Regions from separate parts of the Homo sapiens genome. Here region 1 is linked to region 2. A link means that fine-mapping ties the variant in region 2 to the expression of a gene that starts in the linked region. Tissue or cell type: whole blood. Region 2 holds a variant in brackets; the other region holds the start of a gene. All regions are shown on one strand. Distances are from middle to middle.

Region 1 (10,698 bases), 20 kb after region 2:
TAGGTTAAATCAGATTTTGAACTTTGAAAACTCAGTAGATGTTTTTCATTTGTAAGAAGTCTTGACTATATCTCCATGCTGGATGATGTTCTGTATTTAAATGGAGATGAGTACTTAGTTAATTCACGAGTTGTATTTGTGTTTAAACCTTACACTGTGGACCTGTGTGACTGCAGACAAGTCCTGAGATGGTCAGTCCTTTCAACTACAAAGTGGGGATAATAACAGGTTTGTTGTTACATTGATGCTGAAACTTTATACTTTGTAACGGTGGGACTGTGTGCAAATTATTTCACTTCTGTGAGCCTCAGTCTTCTCAACTGTGAAATGGGAATAGTGACAGGTTGTTGCTATTTTTATACAACCATAGCAAACATCAGTAAATCAAAAGTTACCTGAGTAGGCTGAATTTTCCATGGCTTGTATTTCACTTCGTGAGCCAAGCTCAGCTAATACTTCTATGTGGCAATACTATATTCTGAGCGTCTCATATTGAATAAAGAAATGTTGAATTGCCTTTTCTTTTGGTAATGACACCTCATAAATTTAATTGTGCCTTGCTGTTTATAAAGATAAAATACCACTATGGCTTGGCCTTAATCGATTTGCATGTAATCTTGCTTCCAAGGGCAATATAATTAGTTGCTTATCTGTTTGGAGAATCACATATGCAGCTTTAGCCGAAGCTGGACCCTAATTGAGTTTTGTCTTATGACCTATTCGAAGTCCTGTAATTTTGATGCTGCCAGCAGAGAAGAGGGGACTGCTCTTGCTAGAGGCAGATACACCTCCATCCTTTTCATCAACCACATGTAGAGAATATTCTTGACAGGTTACCAAAAAATTTTATATTCATATATTATACAACCCTGTAATCTAGGGTTAATATCAACCCACCTTTTAAAATGAACATAAACTCTTAGAGGTTAAGCAAGTTGACTAGGATCATCCGGTTTATAAGTAGCAGAGCCAGGACTTAAACTCAGGTGTGTTGACTTCAAACCATGTGTTCTGGGAAACCATCAACTTTACACACTGTTTCTGCTTTTGGAAGATTGCCAGATTCTGATGGCATCTCATTGCGGTGGAATCTATTTGCATTTCATAGCAATCATATTGCTATGACTTTAGAGCACTATGAGCCAGGCTTTGCGCTAATTGCTTTATAAGCATCACCCTATGGGGTAAGTGCTATCATCCCCATTTTATAGTTGAGCAGATTGAGGCTTGAGGAGCTGATGTAACTTGAAGTGGCAGAGCTGGGACTTATGTCTGACCCTGCCTGTCAGTGATCCCAGCAGCTGTCTTCATGTAGGGCTTCCTCTTGTCCTGAAGTCTGTACTCCCTGTCTGATGACAACCTTTTTTATTTACTTCTTATTTTTTATTTTTTGGAGATGGAGTCTCGCTCTGTTGCCCAGGCTGGAGTTCAGTGGCGCTATCTTGGCTTACTGCAAACTCTGCCTCCTGGGTTCAAATGATTCTCCCGCCTCAGCCTCCTGAGTAGCTGGGATTACAGGTGCCCGCCACCATGCCTGGCTAATTTTTTTTGTATTTTTAGTAGAGACGGGGTTTCACCACGTTGGTCAGTCTGGTCTCAAACTCCTGACCTCGAATGATCCTCCCGCCTCAGCCTCCCTAAGGTGCTGGGATTACAGGCATGAGCCACTGTGCCGGGGCTGATGACAACCTCTTTATGGTGGCTTCTCTCCAGTCCACACAGGGATCCTTCATTATGCACCAGCTGCATGTCCATCAGAAGATAGGTGGGTCTTCCCGATGCCCCATTTCTTAGACCCATTGCAGATAAGACTCCTACAATGGAGCTTATGCTTGTTTACCAGCTATTATGGAGAGAGGCTGCTTTAGTTTCTTTTCCTCTTCTGGCTGATACAATTACACTTCAAGTGTCTCTCCTCTCATCTAAATTTCCACCTGGAAAGAGGGGGACGGCATAGAGGAGGTGGAGGAAAGAACAATTGCCCAGCCCAGCACAGGTCAAGCATTCCCCAGGCTGGAGAGAAATGAACGCGTGAGAGCTGTGCTCAGAAACAAGAGTCCTGGCTTCTAGTCTGGCTCTGTCGTTACCTGTGGGATTTTAAGCAAGACCTTTTCTCTCTGGGCCTCAGCTTTTCCCTCTATAAGAAGAGGCAGTTAGATGAGATGGTTGATATTCTCTGATTTTATGAATGGCCAGATATTTGTCCTTTCCTGGAAGTAAGGATGGAAGGAAGAAGGGAAGAGGAAAAGGAGATGAAGGCTTTATGGGGAAGTAGCTTCCGGGCAGCATGAGGAAAGCCATAGAAAGAGTGTGGAGGGGGCAAAAGACACACGTTCAGGGCTACTGCAGGTGGGAAGGTAGCTCTCAACTCCCATCTTCCTGGTTCTGGGCCACACTCCCACATATACTGGCAACATAATTTAAATAGATTTTGGAAAGCTTTTATTTACTTTTAGCTGGGTGTATTGGCATGCAACTGCAATCCCAGCAACTTAGGACGCTTGAGCCCAGGAGTTTGAGACCAGCTTGGGGAACATAGTAAGACACCTATCTCTACAAAAAAAAAAAAAAAAAAAAATTTAGCTAGGTGTGGTGGTGCACATCTGCAGTCTTAGCTATTCAGAAGGTTGAGGCAGGAGGATAGCTTGGGCCCAGGAGGTTGAGTCTGCAGTGAGCTATGATTGTGCCACTGCACTCCAGTGTGGGTGACAGAGTGAGACCCTGTCTGTAAACAACAACAACAACAACAAAAGACCTGCCTGGGCAATATAGCAAGACCTCCAACTCAAAAAGAAAGAAAGAAAAGCTTTTATTTACTTTTATGTAATAAAATCATTCGGTGTTCTTTTCTAAAATATTGGAAAACACAGAGAAACAGCAATGAATCTAGGACAACAATCTTCAAACTTCTTCTTCTTTTTTTTTTTTTTTTTTGAGATGGAGTCTCGCTCTGTCACCCAGGCAGGAGTGCAGTGGTGTGATCTCGGCTCACCGCAACCTCCACCTCCCGAGTTCACGCCATTCTCCTGCCTCAGCCTCCCGAGTAGCTGGGACTACAGGCGCCCACCGCCACGCCCAGAGAATTTTTTTGTATTTTTAGTAGAGACGGGGTTTCACCGTGTTAGCCGGGATGGTCTTGATCTCCTGACCTTGTGATCTGCCCACCTCGGCCTCCCAAAGTGCTGGGATTACAGGCATGAGCCACTGCGCCCGGCCAAACTTCTTTAACTTTGTACCCCTAGCAGTCGATTTTGAGTACACATTCCTAATTTATTTATAAGTTACATACATTATAAAATCCACTAAAATGCAAATTAAGAAAGGTAAGATAAAAACAAAAGTCTCAGTCTCCTGAAGCCCATTGTGAGTTTGGAGGAAGCCAGCGCTCTGGCCACCCTGTGCTCCTGGCACTTGCTCTGTGTGGCTCCTATCAGGAACCCCACACACGTTCCTTGGCCGAATGAATGAAAGGATGAATGGGGAAGGAGGGTGGGGGGAAGATTGCAGGCCAGTGTGGAAAGAGGGGAGGTTGGATCTGAGCCACTGTGGGATGGCAGAGCTGGGGTGCATGGTGAGGCATGCTATCTACTCCACCTGCCAGGCTGGGCCCCCGGGCTGATGATTTTGTGCTTCTGCAATGTTGAAGCAGCTGCCAGTATTTTGAAAAAAAAAAAAAAAAAAAAAAAAAAAAAGAAAGAAAGAAAGAAAGAAACAAACAAAAAAAACCCCACAGGATCGTGGAAAATTGAGACTGAAACTAATTGTAGCCTATCCAGGGAGATGCCCAGAAAACTGGCTTGCCCCTGAAATCGATGTGCTCCAAATCTCATGACTAGTTTGTGATTAGATGGAAAACTTTATGTTCGACTGTGGGATTTAAATAAAGGCGTTTAGAAAATCCAGTTTGCTTCATGACTGCCCAGCAATTCAAGCCACTGCCAGCCACTCATTGTCAGGACGGCTCCCGTTTTCTGAGAAGGGCCCGTCCCTTTCCTAAGATATCTGAGGAGTAGCTCCACCCAGACTCGGAATGCAAGATATTTCAAAGCTTCCTTCGTGGGCTTTGGGAGCTGTGGAGCTGGATGGAGAAATGAGGGATCACTGAACCGTGTCAGTGCAAGTAGAGAACGCTCACCTGAAACTTCCCATTCCTACCAGTGTGCATATGTGCATGTGTGTATTAGCATGAAATAAGCACGTAGACAAGCTTAGCTCACTGCCTGGCACAGAGTGGGTTTCAAGAAATGTTAATTCCTTTGCCCTCATTTTATGTGTTTGACCTGGCTGCTGCCTCCCTCTTCAAAGCCCTTCACCCATCCAAATTCCACCTGCCTTCTCACTTGGTAGGATCCCAGGAATGCCTGGAGGAAATGCTCCTTCTCCCGAATTCTTCTAGCACTTGCTCTCTGGATTATGTGATTTAGGACTGAATTACACCCTGCCTTGCATGGTCCTCTAATTGTTTCTCATGTTTGTGTTACGTCTCTCCTCTACCCCCGACCCCACTATGAGTTCATAAGCACCCCTGACCGTAACGGGGAGATGAACTGGAGCCACAATGCCTTGGCTCAGTCCTGACCCTGCCATGTACTGAATAAATCATTTAATCTCTCAGTTTCAGTTTCTCCAACTGCAACACCGAGATAATGGCACCACCTCACAGGGCTGTTGCTGGGATAATAGGTGTGAAAGCGCCTAAATCGTTGTACAAATGTAAAGTGCTGTTATTATCACCTCTGCTGAATCTACTAGAGCCCCTGCAAGCCTCCCTGCCTGGTGGAGTGTAGACGGTAACTACCTGATTGATTGAATACAGGATAGCTTAGTGACAGCTCTTGTCATAGGCTCCAGGGAGCACAGGTTTGAGCCTAATCCTGCAATCACTCCCTTCACTGACAATGCAAACTCGCCTGCATTTTACAAATCCGTAAGTACTCTCAGCCTTCAGCTGATAAAGCAGGGGCTGCTGCCCTGTGCGCAACAAAACTGCGCCCTCAAAATGACCCGAGGCTGTACCACAGCGCCCTCGCCAGGCAGCACCAGGCGGCACATGCTTTTACAGAGGTGGTGATGGTTGGGGATGGGTTTTCCAGGGACCCTCCTCTGCAGAAGACTCAGCAAGCCCAAAGGAGCACGAATCCTTTTTGTTAAAGGTAACATAGCCTCAGTGTAAGCTTGTAGAATATTTCCCTGCCACACTTTACAAATGAGAAAAAAAGAGGCTGCATGCAGTAGCCACCCACAAGCAGCGAAAAAGAGCAGTATTTGCTTTGGGAGGTTTTGATAAGAAGCCAGGCAGTTACTTTTCCCATCTATGTTGAAAACTCTGGTTTGGGCTTGCTGGCGAATGCCGTGCAAAGCTCATCTTTTGTTAGTCTGCCGAACAATGTTATTGGTTATAATTGGGGCAATTATGGGCTGCTTGAGGAAGCTAAACACAGATGTTTAAGCGCAGGATGGGGGTATTCAAGTCCAAAGCAGCTTGCTTTAAATAGTCCATTTCCCGAATCATCCTGCCTTACTTGAAATTCCCCCAGAACTTGCCCATGTTCAGAGCGAGATTCGGGGAGGAGGGGCTGGGTAGTGAAGCCGGGGAAGCAAGACTCGAGGGAGAGAGATGCACAAAGAGAGGAGGAAGAAAGAAGGTGGCTGAGAGAGCCTCGAGAGTTGGGATGCGGTGACTATGAACGGAGTATTCTGCATGACCTGGGCAAAGACCTTTAGGTGGGGGAGATGGGCAGGGGGAGAGGGATGCCAAGCAAGAGAAGAGCCCTCTAAATGAATCGGGTTCTGGGAGACCAAGGTCACGCCCGTAGAAATGCTCTCTGGAATTCACACGCCGTGGCGCTCAGCAGTGTGTGTATACAGGTGAAGCACACTCCCCAGATCTGGCGCTTCCCCATTATTTGTAGCAATTTCTGCTGGGGGCAGAAGGGAGAAGGGCTCCCTCCGGATTAAAAACTCCCATCTGGATGGCATCAAGTTCAGTGATAGGCGGAGAAGCAGCCTGCGCACCGCATCTGAGAGGAAAGGAAGCCACTGAGAGGAAACCCTCATGAGGGGGCCAGGGTCTTCCTGGGGGCCGCCCCGTGGAAGGCAAACCCCCTCCCAAGTGCCTGCCCCTCCTCTGGCCTCACTCCTCCAGCAGCCTCCTCTCGACACAGAGCAACAACCACGTAGGGGCCACAGCTGGGGAAGCAAAACTTTTCCTCATTTCCAAGTTCCCCTCTTTCTGCTTCTGCGTCTGTCTGAGGTTAAAAAAGAGACTCAGCCCTCCCCCGTTCCCCACCATCCAAGCGCTACAAAGGAGATGAATGAAGAAACCATCTCGCAAGAGGCCAGCAGCATCCACACTGGACAAAGGAGAGAGGCCGAGGAGCCAGCCCCTGGTGGCCCTGCCCTCCCGGAGCTCCACGCAGTTAGTCCAGTTAGTCGCGGTCGGGCTGGGGGCCCCGTGCAGTTGCCTACCTGAGAGCTGTCAGTCCCCGGCTCCCTCCGATGGATGCGAGGCTCGGTTCCGCTTTCTCAGCCACACCAGCATATATATCCTCTCCCCCACGCACAGCCCTCCCCTTCCCTGCCCACCTCCATGACACATACACACACTGACCCCCTTCAGCAACCAAACAGCAGAACCTGCAAGCCTTCCTGGCTGTTCCCTTCCCCCGGCTCTGCCATCAGACCTGTGACATCCCCACCTCCCCATCAATCCATTCTCAAGCCTGCTTCACCTGGACTCTGTTCAGCCAGGATCCCACAGCTGCCTTCCCTGTGCTTCCAGAGGCTCTGTGAGGACTGATGGGGAGCTCTGGCAAGTCAGAAAAAAAGCCTCCTGGTGACAGTGACGAGGCAGACCCCAAATCCTGGAGTCTCCTTGAGCAACCTTTTTGCCTGAGGAGTGAAGAATAGGAGGCAGGCAGAAGGGAGGGGAGCTCATGCCAAGCTCCTACCGACTCGGAGGAGCCCAGGGCTGAGCTAAGCCAAGCCCTGACCTAATGTCATTGCCCCTAACTAGGCCACTCAAGAGGTGGCTGCACCTGCCCTGGGCCAGGTCAGGAGGCATTTCCACAGGTGCCCACAGCATGGTGCAATGGAGAATGCTGAGACTCGAGGCTCAGATGGAAGTGTCTGAAATTCGGCTGTACAGTCAGAGCAAGGCACATCTCTTTGTGAACCTCAAGTCCTCCTTCCGGAAAATGAGTCTAATACTGCCCAGGATGGTTGTGAGTAGAAAAAGGAGATTCTGTTTGAATCTACAACACACGAGGCCCTTAATGAATGTGCTGCATCCTCCCTCTCCTCTCAGCCCGCTTTTCACACTGATTAGTACCACCTGGATGTAGAAATCCCATATCAGTGTCTGGTGTCACAACAGAGAGCTTTTAAAGCTTCTGCAACTTAGGGCATCACTACCGAGGGCCCTGGAGGCTCAGAAGCTCTGGAAGCTTCCCTGTCCCTTACTGCAGAGCCTCTTTGTCTTCTACAGCCGCCGGGGGTTGTGGGCTGCAGGAAAGGAGCTCACAGGCTGAAGGCACAGGCTTGAGGGTTTAGCATCCTTGTGGACCCCACGTTTCCTTACCTTAGGTGAATTTCACCATGACCCTGTCCTTGGTTTTCCTAAGAGGGTCTAAAATATTCCAGAATCCCAGGGTTTGAACCTATGTCATCCAAGGAGCTCAAGCACTCATTCATGTGGTTAAGTCCAGCTCTCTGGTCTACCCAGGACTGGGTGGAGAAGGATTGAGGGAAGCATCTGCCCTGACTGCAAATGGTATAGGGTTTCTTTTTGGGGTAATGGAAATGTTCTGGATTTAGACTGAGGTGATGGTTGCACAACATAGCAAGAATACTAAAACCCACCAAATTGTATGCTTTAAAATGGTGCATTTTATGTTATGGGAATTACATCTCCATAAAAAGAAAATAGGAAAAAGACAGCAAACATCTGCTCAGGTTAAGAGCAACAGGTTCTGAGAATAAAATTTCCCTTCCGTCTGTGTTCACAGCAAAAGGGCTCAGGAGACCAGCATACTCATGATTCTTCACTTAGATCTCTGTTGCCCAAACCTTACACTGCAGGTCGCAGCTACCATTTTGGACTCTTTGGGAAACCAGCATGTTCACTGACTGACACGGGGTCACTTTTGCATCCTGATGTACTTCAGTGTCTCAGGCCTGGAACCTGATTTCATACATGATGTGGCAGATATTGCAGGCTGCCTACCCAATCCCCATTTCCCTGTTCTTCCTTACTAAACGGTACCCTTGATTTTATTCCAGGCATCAATGCACTTAGCTAAAAGACTACATTTCCCATTGACCAAGGGTTGCCAATGAGCATTAAGCTGCAGGTCCTTGGGTGGGGTTTCCAGGAAAGCTTTTTTTTTTTTTTTTTTAGACGGAGTCTTGCTCTGTCGCCCAGGCTGGAGTGCAGTGGCGCCAACTCAGCTCACTGCAAGCTCTGCCTCCCAGGTTCATGCCATTCTCCTGCCTCAGCCTCCTGAGTAGCTGGGACTACAGGCACCTGCCACCATGCCTGGCTAATTTTTTTTTTGTATTTTTTTTTAGTAGAGACGGGGTTTCACCATGTTAGCCAGGATGGTCTTGATCTCCTGACCTTGTGATCTGCCCACTTCGGCCTCCCAAAGTGCTGGGATTACAGGTGTGAGCTACTGAGCCTGGCTGGGAAAGCTCTTTTAAAGGGGGTCAACTCACTGAAGGCCTCTCTCTCTTCTTTGTCCTCCCTCCATCCTGCCTGGGACACAAATGTGATGGCTGGAGCTCTAGCAGCTATCTTGGATTATGAGATAAGACAACTTTGAGGATGGAAGCCATGAGTAAATATGATGGAACATAAAGATGGAAGGATTTTGGGTCCCCCATGACTAATGGAATGGCCATATCAGTCTTGGACTCCAAACTTCAACCTTTTTTTAAAAACAAAAAAAAAACAAAAAAAACCCCAAACATTTATTTCAAATGTCAGTCAGGGTTCAGTTACCCATTGCTGCATAACAAGCCACACCAAGGCCAGAGGCTTGAAACAACAGACCACGTATTTGACTCATGATTCTACAGATTGGGAATTTTGGCTAGTCTCAGCAGGGCAGTTCTTCTGGTCTCAGCCTGACTCTCTTCTGCACCTGCAGTTGGACTCAGAAAGTTGGCTGGGTGTCAGCTGGGGACCTTGGTTCTCTTGCACATGTCTTATCCTTCATGGGTCTCTCACATCCCTCCAGCATATTAACCTGGCATAGTCTCATGGCAAGCCTGAAGTGAAAGCACAAGCAAATACAATCAAGCAAGGGAACAACCGCAAGCACACAGAACCTCTTGAGACCTAAGCATGGAGCTGGCAGTCCATTGCTTTTGCTACATTTGTTGGCTAAGGCCAGTTGCAAGACTGTCCAGAGCCAGGCTGGGTGGAGACTACAAAGTCCCAGGATAATAGAGGGTGGCTATGCAGAAGCCATTCATTGGAGGCATTTGAAACTTTTACTTCCTATGATTTAAGCCATTTAGTTGGATTTTCTATTACATCCAGTGGAAAATTACCTTAAACCAACACACCTGCCTTTGAGCACCTCGTCATTCCCAGGATGTTCAGGCAGCTAAATGCTTTTCTTCCCTTGCAGTTGAGGAAGAGAAAGAGCAAGAGTGAAAAGTCACTTAGCTTCTCTGGACTTTTCTTTCCTCATTTACCAGACAGAAGAGTTGAACCCAACACCTGGATATTCTTGGTGGGTTGAATGAAGCTGCATGTGGTGGCAGGCTGTCTCCAGTGATGGATGGGGAAGGGCAGGATGAACCCAGGAGGGAGTTTAAAACCACTGTTGGGTGGGGGAGTAGAAGAATCTTGCCCCTCAGAAAAGCACAAGTAGACTAGAAATGGTGCAGACTGTGTGGCGTTTGTGATGGCTTCAGGGCTTCCCCCTTGCCACACAGCCACTGAGACTTGGCACTTTGAGAGCCATGGGCTTCCCTTGGGTATGGTAACTGGTCACAGAGCAGCAAGCTGCCCCCTGCTTTTCTGATTGGCAGGATACATTTATTAAAATAGTTGGAAAAGAAAGGTCACATGTTCTTATTTCTACTGCTTTGTGTGTGTGTGCACGCGCGTGTGTGTGTATGCGTGTGTGTGTGTGTGCACAAGAACTTGGAATTAATAAAATTCTTGGCTGGGCGTGGTGGTTCATGCCTGTAATCCCAGCACTTTAGGAGGCCAAGGTGGGAGGTTTGCTTGAGCCCAGGAGTTCAAGACCAGTCTGGGCAACACGGCAAGACCCTGTCTCTATAAAATATAAAAAACTAGCCAGGTGTGGTGGTAAGCACCTGTAGTCTCAGCTACTTGGGAGGCTGAGGAGGGAGGATTACTTGAGCCTGGGAAGTTGAGGCTGCAGTGAGGCATGATTGAGCCACTGCACTCCAGCCTGGGTAACAGAGTAAGACCTTGTCTCATAAAAATAAAATAAAATAAAATAAAATAATGATTTCTTCTGCTTATGAGGTGGCGGAAGTTCACTCCTGCCCACACCAGCTTGGCATCTTCTTTGCAATAGAGGCCCAACCAGGGAGGCTGCAAACATTAGAATCCAATCTGTACTGATAGGTAAGTTTTGAGGCAGATTGAGAAAGCTCTTAAAATTGTCATCAGAATATCTCAGTAGAGGAAGTACAAGGGAAGGAGGCAGCTGCAGC
Region 2 (10,698 bases):
CACCTGTTGCACTCGGATCTGGGCACTGTGCCGTCGGGGTGCACCTTGCCCATTCTCTCTTTTTTTTTTGAGACTGAGTCTTGCTCTGTCTCCCAGGCTGGAGTGCAATGGCACAATCTTGGCTCACTGCAACCTCTGCCTCCCGAGTTCAAGTGATTCTCCTGTCTCAGCCTCCTGTGTAGCTGGGATTACAGGCACGTGCCACCACGCCTGGCTAATTTTTTATATCTTTAGAAGAGACAGGGTTTCACCATGTTGGCCAGGCTGGTCTTGAACCCCTGACCTCATGATCCACCCGCCTCAGCCTCCCAAAGTGCTGGGATTATAGGCGTGAGCCACTGAGCCCAGCCTGCCTATCCTCCTTTCTACACAGCAGTGCCATGCGCTTTTTACCTCTGCCTCCCGGGAGCGGCAGCGCTGGTTGTGTGTGTGCAGAGTCTGCTTCTGTCACTTCACTTAAAAACAGCAAACCAATTTATTAACCATTTGCTCAGTAGAAGTTTAATGGAGAAATCGTTGTTTAAAACAATCAGTCAAAAAGAACAGCTCTTTTACAAACAAGTTATGGCAGTGGCAAGTCAAAACCCCAGGTTCAATTTCCTATTCCTTTCACCTGCCCCTAGAAGGGGCAAGAGGCGGGTGAGCAGGAGAGATGGGGCTATTGAAATGGTAGCTAGAGGAATTACAAAAATACACTCTGATGTAGCAACAGGGTTGTGGTGAAACATGCCAGGGGGCTGGGGAGGAACAATCAGACGGGAAGGTTCTGGAGGCAAACGAAGCCTGCGGGATCTGCAGGCGCTCAGTGCCTTGGGGAAGAAGGAATCCTGATTCCCAGGCGGCAGGTCTGGGGCTGAGCACATGCTGTTTGGGGGATCACCTGGACGCCTGGGGAGACAGAAATGGTTAAAAAATGGCAAACCTGATGGTTTTTCTGACCCTTTTCTATTCCCCCTAGAGACGGAAGCAGTGAAAGGGAGGCAAAGAAAAGCTATCAACCCAAGTAAATCGTTCCTAACGTAGCCAGAGGGGTCCTCAGCATCTCCGCACATCTGCTCCCCCAGCCCCGGGTCTACTGGCTGGACTAATAGACTAAACGGGAGGTCTGTAGGCTGTGACTCGATAGGCACAGTGGCAAGCCCCTTCCCGGGGAACAGTTCTTGCTGGTATTCGGAGCCCATGCGAAATAGTGCCCTTGTTTTACAGTTCTTTTCTTTGCAAGTGCTCTTTGAGCCTGATGGCACTGATAACCTGACCACGAATGAATGTGCTCAGTTTCCATTGCCTAGAAGGGTCAAAGTCTAAGGGTAGCAGAAAAGAGGAAGGTAGTATAGGGTCAGGGGAAAGGAAGGCAGAACCCTAAGACCAGCTGTGACAAGTTCTGTCTAGAGGTGGGCCTGCACCCCAACACCTTTCCTTCCTAGGACATCATTACACTTTCTGAATAGTGTTCTTTTTTTTTTTTTTTTTTTTTTGAGATGGGGTTTCTTTCTTGTTGCCCAGGCTGGAGTGCAATGTGCACAATCTCGGCTCACTGCAACCTCCGCCTCCTGGGTTCAAGCGATTCTCCTGCCTCAGCCTCCCAAGTAGCTGGGACTACAGGCACCCACCACAACGCCCGGCTAAGTGGCTAATTTTTGTATTTTTAGTAGAGACGGGTTTTCACCATGTTGGCCAGGCTGGTCTCAAACTTCTGACCTCAGGTGATCCACCAGCCTCGGCATCCCAAAGCACTGGGATTATAGGCATGAGCTACCGCGCCCGGCCCTGAATAGGGTTCTTTATCCCATTCCAGTGTAAGGTGGCCCCACTTCTTCCCAGCCTTCTCCATGTCTATTAGTATTAGGTATCTTAGAAGTCAAGGACAGCATTGGTAACAAGAGTCCCCCAAGATGGAGACATCTCCATCATGTGTAGGGCAGGTTGGGGTGTGTGTATGTGGATGAAAACAAGGTTGAAGCCGGCTGTTATAGACTTATAAATATCCATATTGGAACTCACCAACTGTGCATGTTGGGGGAAAAGAAGCAGAGAGATGGTTGCAGAAGGAGAAAGGAGAGTCATCAATAATACCCAAATGAGCTGGTTAATGTTTCCAGTTTCCATCCAGAACTTGACATTTGAGCAGAGCCACAGACAGAAGCTCCTTACTGGCTTTGTTTCAGTGCCTCTCAGTTGGAAGCATAATAGAAGATTAGAAAAACCAATTGCCTGGATAGAGGCTCAAATCATTTTTTAAAAAATAAATGGATTCCTGTTAATGGGCCTGATTTTCAACTGTGTTTAGGTAAAGAACATTGCCATCGTTCAGAATTAGACATGAGCTTCAGTGTCCCTGAAGAGCCACTTTAAAGAAGAATGTCTTTAAGATTTGAAAGAATTCAACCCATGCTACTTCTGAACGATTTACTGTTAGGTGCTGTGCAGATATGTGTTAGAAAGAAATAGGAGGCTTGTGAAGGATCCAAGAGTGAGTATGACTTCAAAAGCAGTGCAGGTTAATTTGGGGCCTTTGGAGATGAGTCATCCTGCTAAAATAAACACATCAGCTTTCTCTTCACAACTTAATACACGTGTCCATATTTGGTAACAGGCCCGTGGTGAACATGTTGGCCTACCTGCAAAGGGGCCGTCTCCATGCTAAAGTGTGGGCACCAAACATTAGCATATGTACTAATAGATCATCAAGGAAGGTTATTAGTGACACGGCTACCTCTGACACATGGGACGCAACTTAAAATAGCACATGCAGACATTTTTCTCTTATGCTCGGACTCAGGGAAAAGCCCCACTTGGGTAATGTTTTGGGGTGATTTTGATGATCTGACTGGTTCTTTGTGTTAGGACAATGATACAGTTTAGAAGTTTGTCCTCTTCCAATTTCATGTTGAGATGTGATCCCTAATGTTGGAGGTGGGCCTAGTGGGTGGTGTTTGGGTCATGGGGGTGGATCCTTCAGGAATGCCTTTGTGCCCACCCTATGGTAATGAGTTCGTGGGAGATCTGGTTGTTAAAGAGGCTGGGACCTCCCCTTTTCCCCCTCTTGCCCCCTCTTGCCATGTGGCACGCCAGCTCCCCTTGCCTTCTGCCATGAGTAAAAGCTCCCCGAGGGCCTCACCAGAAGCAGATGCGGGTGCCATGCTTCTTGTATAGACTGCAGAACGTGAGCCAAATAAACTTTGTTTATGAAGTACCCAGCCTCAGGTATTCCTTCGTAGCAATGCAAAATGGATGAATATGGCAAGTTTCTTAGCTATTTAAGGAGACGTATGGGACTCTGCAGATGATCATATTCCCATATACAAATTAAGGCACATAGCCTTGATGGTTGGGAGTTTCCTAAATTTTCAGAAAATTCTACTGTGCTAGGTTGCCAATGCCACTCAAAGTGATGTATTGGTTGATATCCTAAGGAAAGTTGGGTTTTGAATGAACAGGCAATCAGTTAGGGTATTTGATGTATATTATGAGACATGTGGACTTGTATAAGGTGCCTGTGGGTATAGGAACAGAGCAGAAGAAAGAGAGAACAAGGAAGAAAGAGAGGAATAAAAGCAAGCAAACAAAACCAAAACAAAAATGGCACGCTGGAAAGAAGCCAAATGGAGGAAAGAAGATGAACCCCTTTAGTCCATATTCTAGTAGCTACTAGGTCCATTGGACCAAATTCTCCACGTCTTGCTCAGTAATGATACCGTTGACCACAAGGAATCAGTCCCTCTCTGGCAAGGTGGCAGGATGGACAAATGGCTTGTGGAAGGAGGAAGAGCAGAAACCACAACTCCTAATCTTAACAGGAACTCTTTGTCCAGGTAAAATGGGAAACTTTAATGTTTCCATGGAGCCAGGCACCCTGAGAGCTGGGGAAAGGAGAGGGGATAGGTAAGCCGTCTTTGAAGATGAAATAGCACCATCATAGCTGTGGTAATTGGACTCTGCTAATGGCTAAGAGTAGGTCCCACTCTTGGTGTTTAGAGAGACAATCTCGAGGAAAGGTGAGCTGACTGGTTGCTGTGGCAACTGGATGGGCGTATTGGTCCACTTAACTGTCCCCATAGTAACTAAGCTCCTGGGGAGTGATAGAGGAATTAGTTATCTTAACATACTACTATTATCCCCATGGTAACCAGTCTCTAGCCGGAAGTGGTCAGCTTCAAGGTGCAATCATAGGAAAATCTGCTGCCTAGAGAAAGGGTGGGCTGGACTCCTTGCGGGGTGTGTGTGTGTGGAGTGGGGAGGGGGCGGGGAGATGAATGTGCTTCTAGGCCTGGGAGCAAGGCTAAGACAGTTGGTGTGTGAGGTCTCTCCTTGCCCCCAGCTTATTGGTGCCCAACTCACTCATGGGTTGCAGTGGCCGGTACAGCTGGGAGGAGCGCCCCTTCCGGCTACACATTACCATTCTGGTGCAGGGTGCGCCGGCGCTGGCTGGACTGCATGCTCAGGACCAAGTATTGCCTCATAAACTCACTGAACCGCTTCTGATTGGCCAACTTCCTGGCCGACTTCCGGGCCCCGGTGAAGCCCCCAAATCTCTTCTGCAGCTGCTTCTGCTCCATCTCACCAGCCTCCTCCATGCCAGGCTCGGGCTCTTCCTGCTCCTGGAACAAGCTCCGGACTCGGGGCATTCGCCGCAGATGCTGCATCTCCGAAGCTCTCGGCTGGTAGAGAGCAGCCGCCACATGCTCTGGGGCGGCAGGGCTGAGCTGCCAAGAGCTCCTGGCCATGACCTTGGTGCATGGAGTCCAGAGGGGGCTGGGGAAGACCTTCTCTTCACACTCGAGGATGCACACCTGCAAAGATACGGGTGAGAGGAGGGGAGAAGGAACAAGGACCTCTGTTAATCCAGGGCGAGGGAGGAGATCTGGCCCACTGCACCAGTGCAAGTGCTTCTGAAGCATCTAAGTTATCAAGTAACGTGGAGCAGTTTTACACAGGTTTTAGGTTCGTAGAATTTCAGAATTGGAAACAAACAGAGAATCATCTGACCCAGCTCCATCATTTTACAAAGAAACCAGGGCTCAGAGAGGTGAGCGTAACTTAC[C/T]TCTGGTGTCACAGCACGTTAACATAGGAAGTTAACACAGGATAAATGCGCCCAACACCGCACCTTGTTACATCTTTAGTCGGGTTTTTGGAGCCAAGCACAGCTCATGACTGTCACCCATAAAGAATTTTATTTTGTTCTCTCTTCAGGCTTGTGGGAGGTCACATGGGTTAAAGAAATTGGGGATGTGAAAGTATGTAGTCAAATCTGCAGGTTTATTTTAAGGTCACCATGTAAAGATCTACCTAGGTGTTGTTAATTTTTCATCCCGCGTACAGCAGTCGTCACTATCTGTGTATCATTTATAGCAAATGGGGTCAAGACCCTGTGGGGTGGTAGGCCGGCTGGACGTGCGGGGCTGAACCTGTGATCCAGTTCCAGGTGTGGGGAGAGATGCCATCATCAGACCAGAGCCCAGCAGACCCGCTCGGCTCCTAGGAACACTCTGCTCTGCCTCTCCTGCCAACCCTGACTTCTAGCCACCAGCTGGACCACGATGTTTCTCCAGCCCCTCTTGGCTGGTTCTGACCTTGGCCCCCCACCTCCCACGTTCTTGGTTCTGATTGGGTCTCCTGGAAGCCTCTGCCCCCAGCTTTTCTTCCTATTTGCTGTTTTGGCTTCACCCCTAATTTCAGTCCAGGTTTCTGGCCTTAGCCGGCTGGAAACCCCACTTCAACCTGACCTTACTGCTGTGAGTCAGTAGGCAGAGCTCCTCATCATAGCGTGGAGCTCCTGCCTGGCTTCCAGGTCACCTTCTGGGGCAGAGGCTGCAACTGGCCCGTATTCATCTCCCCTTCTCCTTATGCACAGAACACTGTTTTATTCCTAAAGGCAACGTATATGTTTCCCAAGCTTCCTTGGAGCCATAAGTAGCTGACGACATAAAAATGGAAGTGTAGGCCGGGTGCGGTGGCGCACGCCTGTAATCCCAGCACTTTGGGAGGCCGAGGCGGGTGGATCACGAGGTCAGGAGATCGAGACCATCCTGGCTAACATGGTGAAACCCCATCTCTACTAAAAATACAAAAAAAAAAAAAAATTAGCTGGGCGTGGTGGCGGGCGCCTGTAGTCCCAGCTACTCAGGAGGCTGAAGCAGGAGAATGGCGTGAACCCGGGAGGCGGAGCTTGCAGTGAACCGAGATCGTGCCACTGCACTTGACGCTGGGCGACAGAACGAGACTCCGTCTCAAAAAAAAAAAAAAAAAAAGGAAACGTAATCCCAGAACTTTGGGAGGCCAAAGCAGGCGGATCACTTGAGGCCAGGAGTTTGAGACCAGCCTGGCCAACATGGCAAAAACCCATCTCTGCTAAAAATACAAAAATTAGACGGGTGTGGTGATGGCTGCCTGTAATCCCAGCTACTGGGGAGGCTGAAGCAAAAGAGTTGCTTGAACCTGGGAGGCGGAGGTTGCGGTGAGCTATCATGTCACTGCACTCCAGCCTGGGTGACAGAGTGAGACTTTGCCTAAAAAGAAAAAAAAGGTGATCGGGCATCAGATGGGGTTTCCAAGAAAGTAGGAGACTGACTTAAGTGGGAAGAACATTCCGTTTTCCTCTTCCTCCAACTTTCTGTTTGGAATGTGGACATTTGGGCTGACATTGTGTTTGCCATCTAGAAACCATGCAGCGACTCAAAGGATGGGAGTCATGGGCTAGAAGCTGCCGACTGGCAGAGAAGAGAGAGGAGACTGGAGCTGCCACTGCAGCCCTGGGCTGTTCCCTTCTCACTCCTTGTGAGGAACTGAATCTATTGATTTCAGCCGCTGTCACTTTAGATGTTTGTTACTAGCAGGTGAATTTCATTCTTATCTGATATATTTGTCCTTCTGCTTGGCCTCTCGGTCCCTGTCTCTGAGTGGCACCTCACTCCCCAGTTGACTCAGATTTCAAACCCTGGGCATATCTTTTCCTCCTCTCTCACTGCCCCCATCCTGCCAGTCTACAGTTCTGCCCCTCCTCCCACTCCCTCTACCACCGCCTAAGTGCCTCTTAGGTGAAGTGGGTCCCTAACTGATCTCCGCATCTCTGGTCTTTGCCACTGTCATCAGTGTGGTACCCCTGGCAGGATACTCTTCCTGAAGAGTAACTAATCATGTCATTACCTTGCTCACAGCTGTCTAATTGTTTATCATATCCATAAAACAGCTCCAAACTCTTGAGCAAAGCATTCAAATCCCTCTACCACCTGGTCCAGCCCACCATCTAGGTCTTATTTCCGATTCTTCATCACACACCCCTTGAGGCCTATGAGGCTGTTCCTAGTGCCTTAAACACCGCAAAGCTCCTCGCACCTGCATGCCTTTCTCTCTGTCCCTTGGATGCAATGACCTCCTTGCATCCTTCCATCCATCCTTTGGGACCCAGACAAGCTCCAGTGCTGCCCCTCTCTGATAACTTCTAGTTCCCTGGCAAGAATCACTCTCTCCTGCCTCTGTCTTCCCACAGAACTTTGTATTCCTCTTGTGGAAATTTTAATGCTTTATGTCATTAAATTGCAATACCTTCTAAGGCGGAATATGACAAGTTAGGGACCACATCTTACTCATGTGTGAATCCCTTGCAGGAATCTTCTCCTTCCAGTAAAGAGTAGGGTTCCAGTAGAGGTTAGTTGAACTGAGATGAATTAATCAAGAAGTCACTCTATATTTAGCTAAGAGTATAAAAGAAGGGAATGAAAAGAGGTGAGAAAGAGTCCCTGGAAGAACAGGGGTCGCAGCTAGTTGCAACCAGGACTGGGACGCCCCTAGTGCTTAGCATGCGCACTGTTGCAGGCAGCTCCTGTCACCCTGCTGCCACCCTTTGCTTATCTGATTACTCATCTGTCCCATTAGTCCAGGATTCCAGGATTCTTTTATTCTTTTTTTTTTTTCCTTTGGAGACAGAGCCCACACCTGGTCTAAAGGGTCCCACACCTGGATGTGAGTCCCAATCACCTGCAGAGCTTTTAAAAACAGAATTTCGGCTAGGCGCAGTGGCTCATGCCTATAATCCCAGCACTTTGGGAGGCTGAGGCGGGCGGATCATCTGAGGTTGGGAGTTTGAGACCAGCCAGACCAACATGGAGAAACCCTGTCTCTACTTAAAATACAAAAAATAAGCTGGGCGTGGTGGTGCATGCCTGTAATCCCAGCTACTCAGGAGGCTGAGGCAGGAGAATCGCTTCAACCTGGGAGGCGGAGGTTGTGGTGAACCGAGACTGTACCACTGCACTCCAGCCTGGGCAACAAGAGTGAAACTCCTACTCAGAAAAAAACAAAACAGAATTTCAAGACTCAACTAAATCTCTGAAGAATAGAAGCAGGGATTAAAACTTATTTTTACAAAGGAATTAAAAACTTAATTTTACAAAGTTCAGGTAATTCCGATATTTGCCTGGGTTTGCAAATCATGAATATAATTCAACCTTTGCATTTTATGATGTGGTTGAGTAATGTGTCCAAAACAACACGGTTAGATAACAGTATAACCTGAACAAGAACTCAAAGATGCCTTGTGGCCCAGTCCAAGACATCTACTCAGCTACCTCTGTGTGCTTGCAATATGAATTGGTGGCAATTAATGCAAGAAGAAGGATTCTATGAGACCAAGAGCTGAGGTTTGGATGGGAGTATTGCCTATGTTCCACTGGACTGGAAGGGACAGGCAGGGACTAGGTCTGACAGGAGTGTCCCTTTCCTTCCCTGGCAGGGTTTCCAAGAAGCAACCTGTCCAAGTCCACCTATTAGTCACAGGAGGTGACACTGGCCCCTAGTGATGCTCACGCCGTGGTTTTTCTGAGCATGGCTTTTTCATTTAGCTTTTGCTCAGAGATGCTTAACACATGGAACCTAGTTGCTGACAGAATGACCTCAGCAGGGAGAGGAAGGGAACTACTTTTTCACACCTGCAATGTTACTGATTATAAAAAATGATAGGTAACTTCCATAGATAGGGAGGGCTGCCTTAAGAACAATGAAGTTGCAAACTTCTGGAGTATTCTATAAAAATTGCTACTGTGCTGGGCATGGTGGCTCCCGCCTATAATCCCAGTACTTTAGGAGGCCAAGGAGGGAGGCGCCTTTGAGCCCAGGAGTTTGAGAGCAGCCTGGGCAACATAGGGAGACCTCAGCTCTACAAAAATAAAAATGTTAGTGGGGTGTGGTGGTGCATGCCTACAGTTCTAGCTACTTGGGAGGCTGAGGTGAGAGGATTGCTTGGGCCTGGGAAGTCAAGGCTGCAGTGAGCTGAGATTGCTGTACTGCACTCCAGCCTTGGTGACAGAACGGGACTGTCTCAAAGAAAAAAAAATGCTACTGGAGTTTGTTAGAATGCAAATTTTTAGCCTAAAGCATTGGAGATTCTGATCCACTAAGTCAAGGGTGGGGCCCAGAAATTTGTATTTTTAGCAATAGCTCAGGTGATTCTGAGACTGGATGATACCTGGAGAAATCCTGTTTTGGAACTTGCTCTGAGGAGGAAGAAGCCATCACAGAACACGGTGGTTAAAGACTCCTACAGAGAAAGAGTCACCTGGGTCTGTACTTAGCCTGCTCCTGAAATACTTGGAAGAAAACCAGCTAGAATCAATGTGTAGTATATTCTTTCAGATCAGAATCCTGTCGAGTTAGTACTCTACAGGCGTGGATCTCAACTGGGAGTGATTTTGCCCACTAAGGGGCCATTTGGCAATCTCTGGAGACATTGTTGGTTGTCAGAACTGGTGTGTGTGTGTGTGTGTGTGTGTGTGTGTGTGTGTGTGTTACTGGCACCTAGAGGCCAGGGATGCCAGTAAACATCCTAAAGTGCCCAGGACAACCCCCACAACAAATAATTCCCCAGTCAAAAGTGCCCATAGTGGCAAGTTTGAGAAACTCTGCTCTACAAAGTCAACAGGGATGCAGAGAAGTGTGGCTAGCACTGGGAAAGTCATAGAAGGGTAGAGTGGGGGAGCTGGATCTGACTTTTGAGCATGCTTGGCCCAATCCTTGCAGAACAGGAGCCCCAAACTGCTTGTTGAATTTTTCTGCTCCGTCAGTTTATGGAAACAAGTGGAAGAGTTGTTAAACTTGGAGGTGCTTAGATCTTCTGTGAGCCCCTGGGTTTCCAAGCCCAGATAGTAATTAGATTTTGTGTCAGTCAGAGAAAATGAAATTGTGTGATCAAACCAGATGCCACAGTCCATACCCAGACTTGATGCACTGTTAGATAAATTAGATGCTAACAAAATCATCTCAACTCTTGACTTAGGAGAGGGTTTTGGGCAAATAGGAGGAAGCTAAATTCACAACGCATTTGTAGCACCAGATGGGCATAGGAGCTTAATGCCTGACCCTCTGGTGCGGGGAACTCACCAGCCTTTTTCCAGAGATGGGTTAATGGCTTATTAAGTGAGCTGGACACGTTTTGGCAGCCCACGCTGATGGCATTGCTATATTAAGCCAGAATGCGTATGGGCATCTGGAGTCTCAGATGGCTGCCAAATTCATCTGTAAAGCTGGGCTTATGGGGAAAGTGAACAAATGGCCTTTTGGGTGTCTGGGCTCAAAGATTAGGGTACAAAGTGGGAAACAGGCATATGAACCCATTGGGGATGAAAGGAGCAGCTCACAAAGGTGGTCAAGTTTCTGCCACTAAAGAGTCACACCACTTCTGACCAAGAGACATTTGGGAGCTATTTG

The links. PIP is the estimated chance that this variant, and not a neighbour inherited with it, causes the effect.
Region 1: it holds the start of PNOC, and the variant in region 2 is fine-mapped to the expression of PNOC in whole blood (TOPMed, PIP above 0.99).

What each region holds. Positions count from the first base shown.
Region 1 is chr8:28,313,087-28,323,784 of GRCh38, reverse strand. PNOC (prepronociceptin) reads right to left here and starts at 6,517. Exons shown (of 4, transcript NM_006228.5): 1 at 6,469-6,517. RefSeq lists enhancers at 4,500-5,011, 5,012-5,524.
Region 2 is chr8:28,333,132-28,343,829 of GRCh38, reverse strand. PNOC (prepronociceptin) reads right to left here. Exons shown (of 4, transcript NM_006228.5): 3 at 4,339-4,790; 4 at 479-888. The coding sequence ends at 4,386. Among named protein-coding and RNA genes, the nearest start is that of PNOC, 21 kb to the right of the region's middle. RefSeq lists enhancers at 2,503-2,582, 4,530-4,599, 5,280-5,429, 5,520-5,679, 5,700-5,749 and 1 more and silencers at 4,270-4,319, 6,828-6,937. The variant C/T (reference allele first, on the strand shown) is at 5,042.